2 linked regions of the Homo sapiens genome follow. The protein of the gene in region 1 interacts with the protein of each later gene in a pairwise test. Each region holds a gene or a part of one and is shown on either strand. Other genes may lie near its edges. The genes, in order: TPCN2 and TPCN1.

Region 1 (7,275 bases):
CTAATTTCATATAAGGATTCTTGGTGTGGCTTACAATTTAGCCTGTAAGTTACAGAACATGATACAGCTGCCACAACCGTAACTCAGAAATGGCGGTGGGAGGGCTATCCTCGCTCCCTTTGCTGGGGCAGTCACGCAAGAGGCTCTCCCTTTGCAGGGAGGAGGCTGCGGGAAGCTGCCGAGTCAGGGAGACAGGAAGGAGGTGGCCACGGAGGCCCCGCAGCAGCACAGCGGGGCTGCCCTCCAGCCACCCTTCCGCTCTGCCGTGCTGTGGGCTGCGATGCCGCCCATTCCAGCTCTCCTCAGCAGCTACTCCCCACCAGGTCCTGCCAGCAGGGCCCTGGGGCAGGCGGGGACAGGAGATGCACTCACTAGGCTGTTCCTATCAGCTGCACCTGGAGCTTCCAGCCCCCACATCGGCACTGCTGGGACCAACCTCATTGAGCTTCTGGGAGGCACCAGCGCCCACCAGACAGCACCCCCTCCCAGAGGACAGAGGGCAAGAACCCAGCTCTATGGGCCCCTCCCTTGGGCCTCCAGGTGCTAACAACCCCCATCTCTCCCCCGTCCCCTGCCCATGAGTGGGACTGCTCCCGGTGGTTCTGGGTTCCACTGGGCTCCTTTCACTGTTGGTTTCTCGGAGCCTGTTTAAGGCCCTCTGTTCATTCTCTCCACAAGGCACCTGTGGGGCTCTGCTTCCCGACAGACCCCAGTGGATTCTGCTGACTCCGCACCCACCTCTCCCAGCTCTATTCTCGCAAAGCCCAGGGGGTGCTTCTGGGTGCTCTGAGGGGAAACCAAGGCACTGCGGTGGAAAGGGCTGAGTGTGGCCGGGTGAGGGGGCTTTCTCACTGTCAGACCTCACAGAGCTTGGGGCTTGTGACTACGGGGCATGGTGAGGCCCTGGTGTGGCGCTCTCATCCGGGGCTGGACGGCCGAGGCCTTCAGCTAGAGAGCGGAGAGCCGGGAGGCAGAAGTCTTGGAGCTCACTCCCAGGTCCGCCCTCAAAAACAGGGCGAGCCAGGAGGAACCCTGTGCCCGTCCAGGCCTCCATGTCTTCATCTGTGAGACAGGAACAAGGATCCCCAGCCAACAAGTGAAGGAAGTGCCATGGGAGGTGGGCAGTGCTGGGCGGGTGGGCAGGATGGCTGGCGGGCTCAGGGCTCCATCCCAGCACCCCCGTGGGCCTTGCACCCACACCAGCCCCAGATCTCTCCATCTGTCTCAGGGCTGCCTCACCACCTACCTCATGACACACGAGACTCAGGGACACGGTCCAGTCCACCAGAGACACCACCAGCACCACGAGGTAGCCCAGCAGCCAAAGGTTTTTCTGGAAATGGGCCCACCCGAACAGGTAACCCTGCAAGATAGACGGGCGGGTGAGCAGCAAGTAGCCCCACACGCTGGCCCTGCAGCCAGAGAATGACGGTGCGCAGCGCAGGGACCAGGCGACCAGAGCAGGGTGCGCCTCCACAACAGTGTGGTCCCCACGGGACGCAGAGCAGCAGTCAGGAGGCCCGAGCTCCCGCCCAAGCCTGCTAGGGACTCGCTGTGCAGTCTCAGGCAGCACCAAAGCTCTCTGGCCTGGGGTCCTCATCAGTAATGGGAGGCTCCTGCCTGTTCTGCCTATCTAACAACCACCTTGTGCAGGCTGAGAAGACATGGAATGCACTCTGGAAAAGGCTAGAAAAATACCAGCTCAGTGGGCAGGTCTCCGCCGCCACAGCAAGGCAGCTTGGGAAGTGAGGTCTGGTCTGTTCTTCCCTTACCTAACTGCCATTTCCCACCATCAAGAAAGTCCCCAGAAGGCGGTGGCTCACGCCTGTAATCCCAGCACTTTGGGAGGCCGAGGTGGGCGGATCACTCAAGGTCGGGAGTTTGAGACCAGCCTTGCCAACATGGTGAAACCCTGTCTCCACCAAAAATAGAAAAATTAGCCGGGCATGGTGGCAGGCACCTGTAATCCCAGCTACTTGGGAGGCTGAGGCAGGAGAATCACTTGAACCCAGGAGGCGAAGGTTGCAGTGAGCTGAGATCATGCCACAGCACCCTAGCCTGGGCGACAGAGCTAGACTCTGTCTCAAAAATAAATAAATAAATAAAAGACGGCCGGGCACAGTGGCTCACACCTGTAATCCCAGCACTTTGGGAGGCCGAGGCGGGCAGATCACAAGGTCAGGAGATCGAGACCATACTGGCTAACATGGTGAAACCCGTCTCTACTAAAAATACAAAAAATTAGCCAGGCGTGGTGGCACGCGCCTGTATTCCAACTGCTGGGGAGGCTGAGGCAGGAGAATCACCTAAACCCAGGAGGCGGAGGTTGCAGTGAGCCAAGACTGCACCACTGCACTCCAGCCTGGGCAACAGAGCGAGACTGTGTCTCAAAATAAATAAATAAAATAAAATAAAAGACAGCCCCCAGAGGTCACAGCTTGCTGATGTACCCTCTCTCACCTTTTGACACTTCTCAAACACACCAACCATTCAAAAAACGCTAATGACAACCTCTTGCCAGTTTCAGTTCCAGTTGAAAAACCCCCAGACCTGCTAACCACATGATAAGCTACAAAGGAAGAAATGAGAAACTGCCCGGGGCCTGCAATCACACACACCAGCATCCAGCCACAACCCTCGGTCGGCACACAGCCCGCCCTGCCCACAAGGGACTACAGGGCAGTGCCGGGCAGAGGCCCCACGCGACCAGGAAGCCACGTGAGCCCAAGGCCCAGCCAAGGAGCGGCAGGGCTGGCGCTGAGGAGGGCTGCAGCCAGGGCCTGATCTAACACCATGGGCATGGATGTGGGGGCCCCTGAGACCGCAGCACTGGAATCACTGTTTGACAAAAATAGAAAACGTAGCCTGCACCTCCCTGGAAAGGCACTAAGTCTCTGACGAGGCTCAGAAGCTTAGGTGAGCACCAAAGGCCCACCTCCAGCTTGTGGGAGGACGTGCGTCACAGGCAGAACCCAGAGTCAAACATGCAGCAGCTGCTGTGTGCATAAGAAACCCCTTTCTGCCCCACGCCCACCTCCTCTCCTCTTCTCTTTGGGGTGGCAGGGTGAGCCTTGAGGAGGGACCACCTGGGCCTCACTTATTCACTTGGGACCTCTCCTCACAGCAGCACTGCAGACACTGGACTGTTCCCAGAGGCCCTGTCAGCCTGCGCAACCCCTGACGGCCCACTGGGCTCAGTCTGCATGGTGGAGAGGGAGGAGAGCTGACGGCACACTGGGCTCAGTTTGCATGGTGGAGAGGGAGGAGAGCTGACGGCACACTGGCCTCAGTTTGCATGGTGGAGAGGGAGGAGAGCTGACGGCACACTGGCCTCAGTTTGCATGGTGGAGAGGGAGGAGAGCTGACGGCACACTGGCCTCAGTTTGCATGGTGGAGAGGGAGGAGAGCTGACATAGCCTCTGCCTCAGGCACTTGCTTGTCCAAGAAAGTGTGCCTTGCTCACCGGGTCAAAGTACAAAGTCTGGGGAAAAGGCAGCTCACTCCAGAGAATCAGCAATAAACCAGGAGAGCAGCGGCCAGGCGCTGGGAGGCCGGGGCAGCACGTAGAGGGCCTGGCGCCCGCCTCACCTTCACAGAGAGGTCGGCCGCAAAGACCAGCAGGCAGAGCACCTCGACACTCTCGGTCAGGCCGCAGGGCGGCTCCCAGGGAGCAGCGCGGTAGCGCACGTCCGCCGTGCTGGTGAGTGAGGATGGGGTCTCGATAAAAGCCAAAAACAGGATCAAGAAGATGGTGAAGCTCAAAGTCCTGGAAAGGGGACAGAAACATGAAAACACAGGAGCCAGCAGCCCTCAGGGCCCAGAGGCTGGTCAGGAGCTTCCCCAGTCCGAAGCACGGGAGTTGGCGCTGCCTGAGCGTGGACACTCGTGACTGGGGAGATCACGAATCTGCTCAAAGCTCCATTGCCGAGGGCTGACCACAGCATTCCAGAAAGGAACCCTTGTTGTAGAAGGAGCCTGCCATCACAGGCCGTCTCCTTTCCAGAGAGGATGATGGTAACCGCCCTATCTATGTAGTGGGGAGCCTGCCTGGACCCTGAGACCAGGTGATCCCCAGGTGGGGGCCAGCCTCCCCTGCCACGCAAGCCGGCAGGAACCCTGAGTTCCACATGGGTGCGTTCTCACCGTTGGCATACGTTCGAGTAATACCGTCGGTAAAGCCACATCGAGCTGGCATCCACCCGGTGGTTGATGGAGCGGTACTACAAGCGAAAAGTCACATGAGGCATGACATGGGTGCATGCAGGGTGGGCCGTGACCCGAGCCCCACACCACACACGAGACAGGCCCAAGTCTCAGGCTGTGGATCACAGGGGACGCTTCAGCGTGTGGACATGGCCAGCCCTGACCCATCAGGCCCACACCATCACAAACCACGAGGTTTGCCCAACACACAAGACCTCACAGGCCACACACCCGGGGTGGGTGGGTGCGTGAGCAAACACTCAGGGAACACTTGCTGAGAGCACAGCTGTGCCCGTGTCTGCCTGCGAGGCTCTCTCTTCTCTGTGCAAGGCTGACCCTCCCACGCCCCGTGCAGCTGTGTCATCCTCCAGGATGCCCCCACCCACCCGGGACCTAGAATGGGGTGGTCCACAACAGGCCTCAGAACACGGTGCATCAAAGCAGCAAATGCGTCCAGGATGCAGAAGACAAGTCCTCCGGGGACTGACGAAGAGCCGTGCCCAGAGGCTCCACCCTCAGTTCTCTTAACCTACAGTCCAGCAATGGAGGCCTTGGACCCAGTCAGTCGCCCCTGGAGGGGCGAGCCAATCGGAGGGCGGCCACCCCCCAGGCCCGGCCACAGGGAGCAGGTGCCACCGACCTGAATAGCATCTTCGATGAAGACCACAGCCTGATCAATGCAGAGGTCCCACCTGGCCGCGGCACCTGCAGGCAGAGGGGACACATCAGGTGACCGAGCAGGATGACATGGCCTCACCCTCCAGGATACCCGTGATCAAGGAAAGATGCCGGCTGTGGTTCTTCCCAAGGCCGTTTGTAAAGAGATGACTCCACCCGGCAGTGGGGCTGCATGTACCTGCCCAGGGCAGGGACCAAACCAGGTAAGTGCCTCGGCATCAAATGCACAGGCCAGGCCCAGGGCACGGCACCTCCGCATGCAGCGCACACAACTAGCAAGCCTGTGGGAAGCGGCACATCCTGCAGGGCCCTGGCACCAGCGTCGGGGTTCAGAGCCCGGCTCCTCCACGTGCTGGCAGGAAGGCTGTGGCTGGCTCCTCCTCTGTCAAGTGGGGCTATTTACAGCCACCCAATCGGCTCCCCAGAGGGTACTGTGAGGTGCAACGCAGGAGCACAAGAGCCCCCTGCCACGCTCCCCAGGCATGCTCGGTACATGGGGCTGCTGTCACCCCTCTTCCGCTCGGCCCTACCTGGCTCCTGCACAGTCTTCATGAGCCAGGACACTGTACCCAGTGTCCCACCCACCCCCATCAAACCAGACCTCGGATTCAACAGTGACAGGGAGAACTGGCATCTAGAACCCAAAGGCACTGCCATGAGGCTTCATGAGTGCTACCAAGGTCCCATTCCCTCACTGTCCCGGTCCATGGGCCCAGGCAAGCCCACCCAAATCACTCCCAGGGTCAGAGCTGCAGGAACGCCCGAGTCCCCCAGCCTCTGCCGGTGCCTTCTGTGGTGAAGGGTGGCCGCCCGCCTTTACCAACAGCACAAGCAGGGTGGAGCCTCCCGGCAGGCCTGGGCAAAAGCGGCAGTGGCTCCTGACTAGGAGGGGCCTTCAGGAAAAGTCAGGCGGCACAGAAGCCAGGACCCAGCACCCTGGCCTGCTCACAAGCCCCTCACCTGCCACAGAGCAGCCAGCGGGCGCACCTGGTCAGCCACTGAGCCACTGCAGGGAGCCTGGGCCACCCACCCGCATCGTAGGCACGGGCCACCTCTGGCCTCGCTGCAGAGCTGCTCCCCAGCAGGCCAACAGGGAAGGAAAACTCAACCCGAAGCAACTGAGGAGCCCGGAGAGGCTGACACTTCCCAGCACGGGGAGAGGGTGAAGCAGCTGCTTTTTCAGTTGAGACTCGGCTTTCACACCTGGCCCCTTGGGGCCCACAGCTGCACCAAGACAATGTGGTGACATGGGAGGCAGCAGCAGAGGCCTCAGGAGGTGCTGGTCCCCAGGCAGAGCTCCAGGCCATGACCCGCCCACGCCACTGGCCATCCTTAGGGAGGCAGCTGCCCCTGTCCTCGGGGCTCCTGCTTGGGGGCATGAGGTATAGGCAGCTGGGCCCTGGACGGATTAGAGGTGTGAGGGGCCCCAGACAGAGGCAGGAGACCGGACCCCACCCTCACTCTGCCCGGCCCTGCTGCACTGCCGGGAGCAAGAGCCTTCCCTCCCTGTGGCTTTGGTGCCCACATGCACAGCCACGAGACCCACCCTGAGGACACCCGAATGTCTCCCCAGGGAAGCTCTGAAAGTGGCTACTGTTTATGTCCCCTGAGCACATCCTGGGATCGCTATGAACAGAAGCCACACTGTTTTGTTCCCTGCTGTATCTGCAGAGCCCAGAAGTCAAGCACACAGGACTCAAAGCTGATATATCCCATGAATAAATGAACAGCCCTGAGGGGAGCCTGGGGGGCCGGTGATCTGAGAGGCCCCACCTTACCAGATTCCCTGGGAGAAGACAAAATCTCTACCAGGAGAGATCTAGTGATACAAGCTTCTTAGACAAGAGACAAGCGGCCGAGTTCCGGGCCTCACTCCAGCCCCAGGACCACGGAAAGTACTCACATCCACCCAGGCCAGCCATCCCAGGCCAACAGTGGTGGGCACCCCTGGAACCATCCAGCACTCGTGGTTCCCTTTCGCCTGGCTTTTTGGTTGCTGGTTTGTAAAATTCTGGGTCTGGCCATCCTCCGTTTCACCCTGCAACAGCCCAAGGATCTCGTTCCAAACACTCAGAAGCACATCGCAGCTTCCCCTGGGCCCCCACTATTCCAGGCCCACACTCCACCCTGGTCTGGCACTGCAGGTTCCCACATTTGCCGGCCCGCCTCTCTCCTGCCTTTCAACCCTCAGTGCCACTCATTCCGAACTGGGCTCTGCCAAGGCCATGCTCTCCAAAGCCTCCAACCCTTTACTCAGGCTGCTGCTTCTGCCAGGAGCACCATCCCCCAATTTGTGAGTCCAGGGACTCCCTTGGGACAGCTCGCCCCGCCCTGAGCTCATCACCCTGGGGGACAATCACCTTTCCACACACCATCACCCACTGGGGCTGAAGG
Region 2 (4,897 bases), on another chromosome or scaffold:
CTGGTCTCAAGCAATTCTTCCACCTTGGCTTCTAATTTAAGAAAAGGCAGGCCAGGCATGGTGGCTCATGCCTGTAATCCCAGCACTTTGGGAGGCCAAGGCAGGCGGATCACTTGATGCCAGGAGCTCGAGACCAGCCTGGCCAACATGGTGAAACCCTGTCTCTACTAAAATTACAAAATTTAGCCAGGCCTGGTTCCGTGCACCTGTAATCCCAGCTACTGAAGAGGCTGAGTCAGGAGAATTACTTGACTCCAGGAGGCAGAGGTTGCAGTGAGCCAAGATCATGCCACTGCACTCCAGCTTGGGTGACAGAGCTAGACTCTGTCTCAAAAAAAAAAAAAAAAGGCAGAATCAGATGTTTTTCTTTTTTTGCATGACCTCCCAATCTTTACATATTGGCAGCTAAGGAAAATATCTCACAAAGCACCGTGTGGGCTGGCATTTGGCACGGTGCCTTCCAGACCATGGGCCACCAGCCCATGAGCCCTGCAGAGTCTTCTCAACCACCTCAGGGTTGCCAGGGCTCCGGGGAGCCTCTCCCACACCAGCTATGGTGGCTTTGCTCTGTTTTCTGGCATTCTAATAGCTTGAAGCCCTTCTGTTTCACTAAAACAGTGACAACCAGGGTCCATGCCTGAAAAGCGGGGGGTGCTGTCCCCAAAGCAGCTTACACATTCTCCGGGAACACAAGAGACTCAGGCAGTGTTCTTTGGGCTGATGTGTAGTGGCTCACTGAACTTGGTGTCACAGAAACATGGAAATAATAGAAGCGTTTGACCTTGGGCAGTCACTCCATGCCTCCCTGTCTGTGCAAGGGGATGACTGTGCAGCAGCACCCATTCAGGTGTGGTTGGAAGGAGGTGTGCTGCCCTTGGCCTCTGCCCTTCTGCCTGTCCATCTGCTCCAGGCCTCAGTTTCCCCCTCTGTAAAACAAGGGGGCCAGAACTAGGCCATCTCGAAGCTCTAAAAGTCTATGGTTCAGTCTTTTAAAAAGTAGGGTAGGGTATGGTGGTGCACACCTGTATTTCCAGCTGCTTGGGAGGCTGAGGCGGGAGGATCATTTGAGCCCAGGAGTGGGAGGCTGCAGTGAGCCGTACCTCGCCACTGCTCTCCAGCCTGTGCCACACAGTGAATCTCTGTCTCCTAAAAAAAAAAAAAAAAAAAAGGAAATGTGGGGTATACTTAATTCCTTAATTACCTGAATACCTCAGTCCCTGAAAATGTCAGAGTTTATAATCATGGCCTTAGGCAGGTGAGGTATTCAGCACAATACAGCTCTAAGCCTCGGTGTCTCGGGTGTGAAACAGGGACACAATTCCTGCCAAGCTCAAAAGGGGTCACTCGGGGGGCCCTTTAGTGAAGGACAAAAGGTTATGCTCACAAACAAGGGGTGAGGGTTGTTCCTGCCTGGGCCTGTTAGAGAGCTGTTATGCGCAAACCTCCAGACACTAGGGAAAGATTTCATTGTCATTTTTGCCTCTGGGGCCACATTCAAAATTCCCAGCATTTCTGGGCCTGTGACGGGGGTTTCAGTACCAGCTGGGTGAGGCTGGCAGCCCTGCCCCTTCCAGCCTGGATGCTGTGGGCTGTGTGACCTTGTGGGGTGGGCGGGGCAGGGGGTGGGGTGCAGCCCTCAGCACCCCTTCTGCTCTCTTCTCCAGGAGTGGTATGAGGAGCATGCCAGGGAGCAAGAGCAGCAGCGACAACTCAGCAGCAGTGCAGCCCCCGCCGCCCAGCAGCCCCCAGGCAGCCGCCAGCGCTCCCAGACCGTTACCTAGCCCAGCGCCCGAAAGCCGTCTCTTCTATGCAATAACACAATAGTATTACTCTACTGCGATGTACGGAACTGCGGTGTGTGTACACATACTCACGTATATGCACATATTTATATACAGGAAGAAAAAAGACAGACAAGATGGGGCTTGGTTTATAACCACCTTGCCCTGTCTTCCTTAACTCCAGAAGCCAGTTTGGTGAGGGGTGGGGGTGCGGCCACCAGGTCTGAGCTCTTCCTACTGTGGAAGGCTCCAGAAGGCCCTTCACAAGGAGACCCCTCACCTGGATCCAGTCGACTGCGGGGCTTGCCCCTCATGTGGGCTGGCCTCCATCGGCCACGTCCAAAGCTGTCACTGCTACTGCTTCAGGCTCACATCCCCCCGACCTGATGGCGTGCCCGCCCCCTCTCCCTGCGGCCCATGCCACAGGTTTCTGTGTTTTGCTTTAGGGACAGAACCACTTAGGAAGGAAAGAACTCCCGGTCTCCAGGGTGGTATTTCAGTGTCTGTGATAATGTCACGCAACACCTCTTCGGGGACCAGTGCCCAGGATCTAATGGAAGCGGAATTGGGGCAACTGGGCCCATGTGGCCAGAGCTCAGTTAGCCAGTGCCGGGCGGCCACAGATTACACTGACCAATCTCCTCCCTTGGCTCTGCAAGCCTCCCACCCAGCCTTCTCTGGCTTAACCCTTGTTGGCGAAAACTCTTCCACAGTGGCCTCCTTGGGGACCCAGAACCCGGAGGAAGGGGCATGAGGCAGGAAGTGGGGCCGATGTCTGCAACCCAGACCACTTCGTGGAATGGGCTCTTGACCAAATCCCTTTTTTTGCGATTTACCCGTTCAAGCAAAACAACGTTTTGGTTAACTAAGGATTGTGCTAAAGCCGATACCAGGTCCTTCACACGTGTGCACTAGGAACAGGAGCGAACAGCACAGAGAGACGCTCCCTGTGGGACGCAGCAGCCCCGTGGCCCCGGCCCAGTTCCCAGCCACCCTCCCTGGCTCTGCTCACACCAGAGATTTCCATAGCAGGAGCGGTTGGTGCAGAAGTAGGTTCAGATGAACCTCAGTTAACGTCGCCACCCCTCCTCCCACCATGGTACCCTGTAGGAGCCCTGTATGACATCTGAGCGTGGTGGAGGTAGGAGGGTTGCCAGCTGCAGTGACCCTGCCACAGAGGCAGGGTCAGTGCAGAGGTCGCTTTGGTTCCGCTTCCCTGGGCCACAGAACGGAACACAGCATAGGTTCTGCAGCAGGAGCCGCAGTGGCAGGATGGAGGGTGCGAAGGGCAAGGAGTGCACTGCTGGGCATTCCTGGCCAGCCCCGGCCCTCTGGTGCCTGCTTCCTGTGACTTCAGAAGGCAGGTGGACAGAGCCTCCCTCTGGCCTTGTCCTCTTCCCAGCCACAGAACGGGCAGGGTGGCACCCGACCCCAGGGGAGCAGTACCTGGTCCCCCACCCCCTCCTCCCAACCACCTCCAAGGCCAAGCTGGGTCCCATAGCCAGCACGGCATGGTTCTCCCCTTCCCCCCTTCCCAGGTCAGGGGAGTTGGACAAGTAGCAGGTGTTTGTTTTTAAAGCACAGCCCTTTGGGAAAGCAACACATTATTGAGACTCACTGTGATTCCCCCGGGAGTCAGACTGGCTTTGTCCTCTTCCTCTCTGGAGGGCCATGGGCCATCAGCAGGAGCTCCACATCGAGCCCCAGGCCAGAACCCCCTCCCTTTCACAGAGAGGGAACTTTATTGCACAATTGGGTGCCTTTTAGCTTTTGTGTGTTGAAATGGGCGTTTTGGAAGCAAGGGTCAGGGGACAGCTTCTAAAGGTGTGAGTCTCTGACCTGAGCATCTGGGCCTCGCCTGGGCCCTTCTTCCTCCCCAGGGGTGGAAACGTGGAGGGGCCAGCAGCACCCCGGGGTCTGCCCAGGGGAGTCAAGGCCCCGAGGTGGGGGGGCCTATTCCAGGAGGAGTGGGATCTCGGCCCTGTCCAGAGCGAGTTAATGTGTCCATCTGCCCAACCCTGTCCTGAGAAAGGACCTGGTTTTGGCCAGGACCTGACAAATACCCAATGGCAGCAGTGTCAACAGACGGGAGTCCAGCCAGGGTGGGTGCCCTTGTCATTGAGGTTAGGGACAGCTATCCCCAGGTTATGCCTGGCCCCACCCAGCAGGGAGTTGGGGTCCCCCCACAGGCTGTGAGCTCTGTGGGCCCTGGGATGTGATCTAGCTCAGATGCCCTCTCATCCTTGATGTCATAGTTGAGTGCACCCAAGTGGCACCCACTGGCGGCCAGGGGCACAGCCTGGTGGTGGTGGCAATAGAACTGTGCCCCTCCTCAGCTCCTCGCTTCCCCTCCCACAGCCCCAGCCTTACTCCACCATGCGGACAATCATTTTGTACGGATCACGGGAGCAATGCTGTACGGTTTTGTACACTGGTGGTTTGTTTCCTAGAAAACCCATTGTGTCTCTGGATTTCTAGCACATTACTAAAAGAGCCTCTGCTTTGTAAACATGGCTGCTGCCTCTTGACTTCTGTGGCTTTGGGTATTGTCGGGAGAGTGGCCCCATCCAAGGCCATGGCCATTCCTGATCCTGCCTCAGCCCCACCCCGAGCTGTGCCCTGGGGTCAGCCACTTGGCACTGGCCCCAGGTGAGGAAGAACTGGTAAAAGTTGGGGGTGTCATTTTCTCTACACTTGAAATTTTGACTTTTTTTTTATTTGGAAAAGAGACAGTTGAATCCCTTTTCTTTACCAGCATAAGGCAGTCAGGCAAACCTAAGAGTTGCTTATTTCGGCAACATAAGGCGGGGTCATTGCATGACAGCAAGAAGGCACGAGGTCCCCTCATCTGTCCTTTCCCAGCTCGCAGGCCTTGGAACCCCGCCCAGGGCCCCGCTGAGGGAGGCACAGGCACAGTCCTACCGACTCCTGCCTGGCAGCTGGAGGAGCCCAGGTTCCAGCACAAAGGAGTCTGTGGACAGGCAGGGGCAGAATCCTGGAGGGAGCGCCTGAGCCACCATCCCATGTGGCAGCTGCTGGCGTAGCAGTGCCTCGGGCTGGCATCGTTTTGGAAGCAAGTGGGTTCAGTGAAGTGTGTTGCCACGAATAGCACCCGC

What was found.
Region 2: the proteins of TPCN2 (region 1) and TPCN1 interact in binary tests that used the Homo sapiens proteins (3 or more experiments, as listed by UniProt).

What each region holds. Positions count from the first base shown.
Region 1 is NC_000011.10:69,051,666-69,058,940, reverse strand, and holds part of TPCN2 (two pore channel protein 2), read right to left. Parts: intron 4,909-7,275; coding exon 4,844-4,908; intron 4,221-4,843; coding exon 4,144-4,220; intron 3,767-4,143; coding exon 3,589-3,766; intron 1,364-3,588; coding exon 1,247-1,363; intron 1-1,246. UniProt on the Homo sapiens protein: Intracellular channel initially characterized as a non-selective Ca(2+)-permeable channel activated by NAADP (nicotinic acid adenine dinucleotide phosphate), it is also a highly-selective Na(+) channel activated directly by PI(3,5)P2 (phosphatidylinositol 3,5-bisphosphate).
Region 2 is NC_000012.12:113,294,296-113,299,192, forward strand, and holds the end of TPCN1 (two pore channel protein 1), read left to right. Parts: intron 1-1,664; coding exon 1,665-1,781; 3' UTR 1,782-4,290; downstream 4,291-4,897. UniProt on the Homo sapiens protein: Intracellular channel initially characterized as a non-selective Ca(2+)-permeable channel activated by NAADP (nicotinic acid adenine dinucleotide phosphate), it is also a voltage-gated highly-selective Na(+) channel activated directly by PI(3,5)P2 (phosphatidylinositol 3,5-bisphosphate) that senses pH changes and confers electrical excitability to organelles.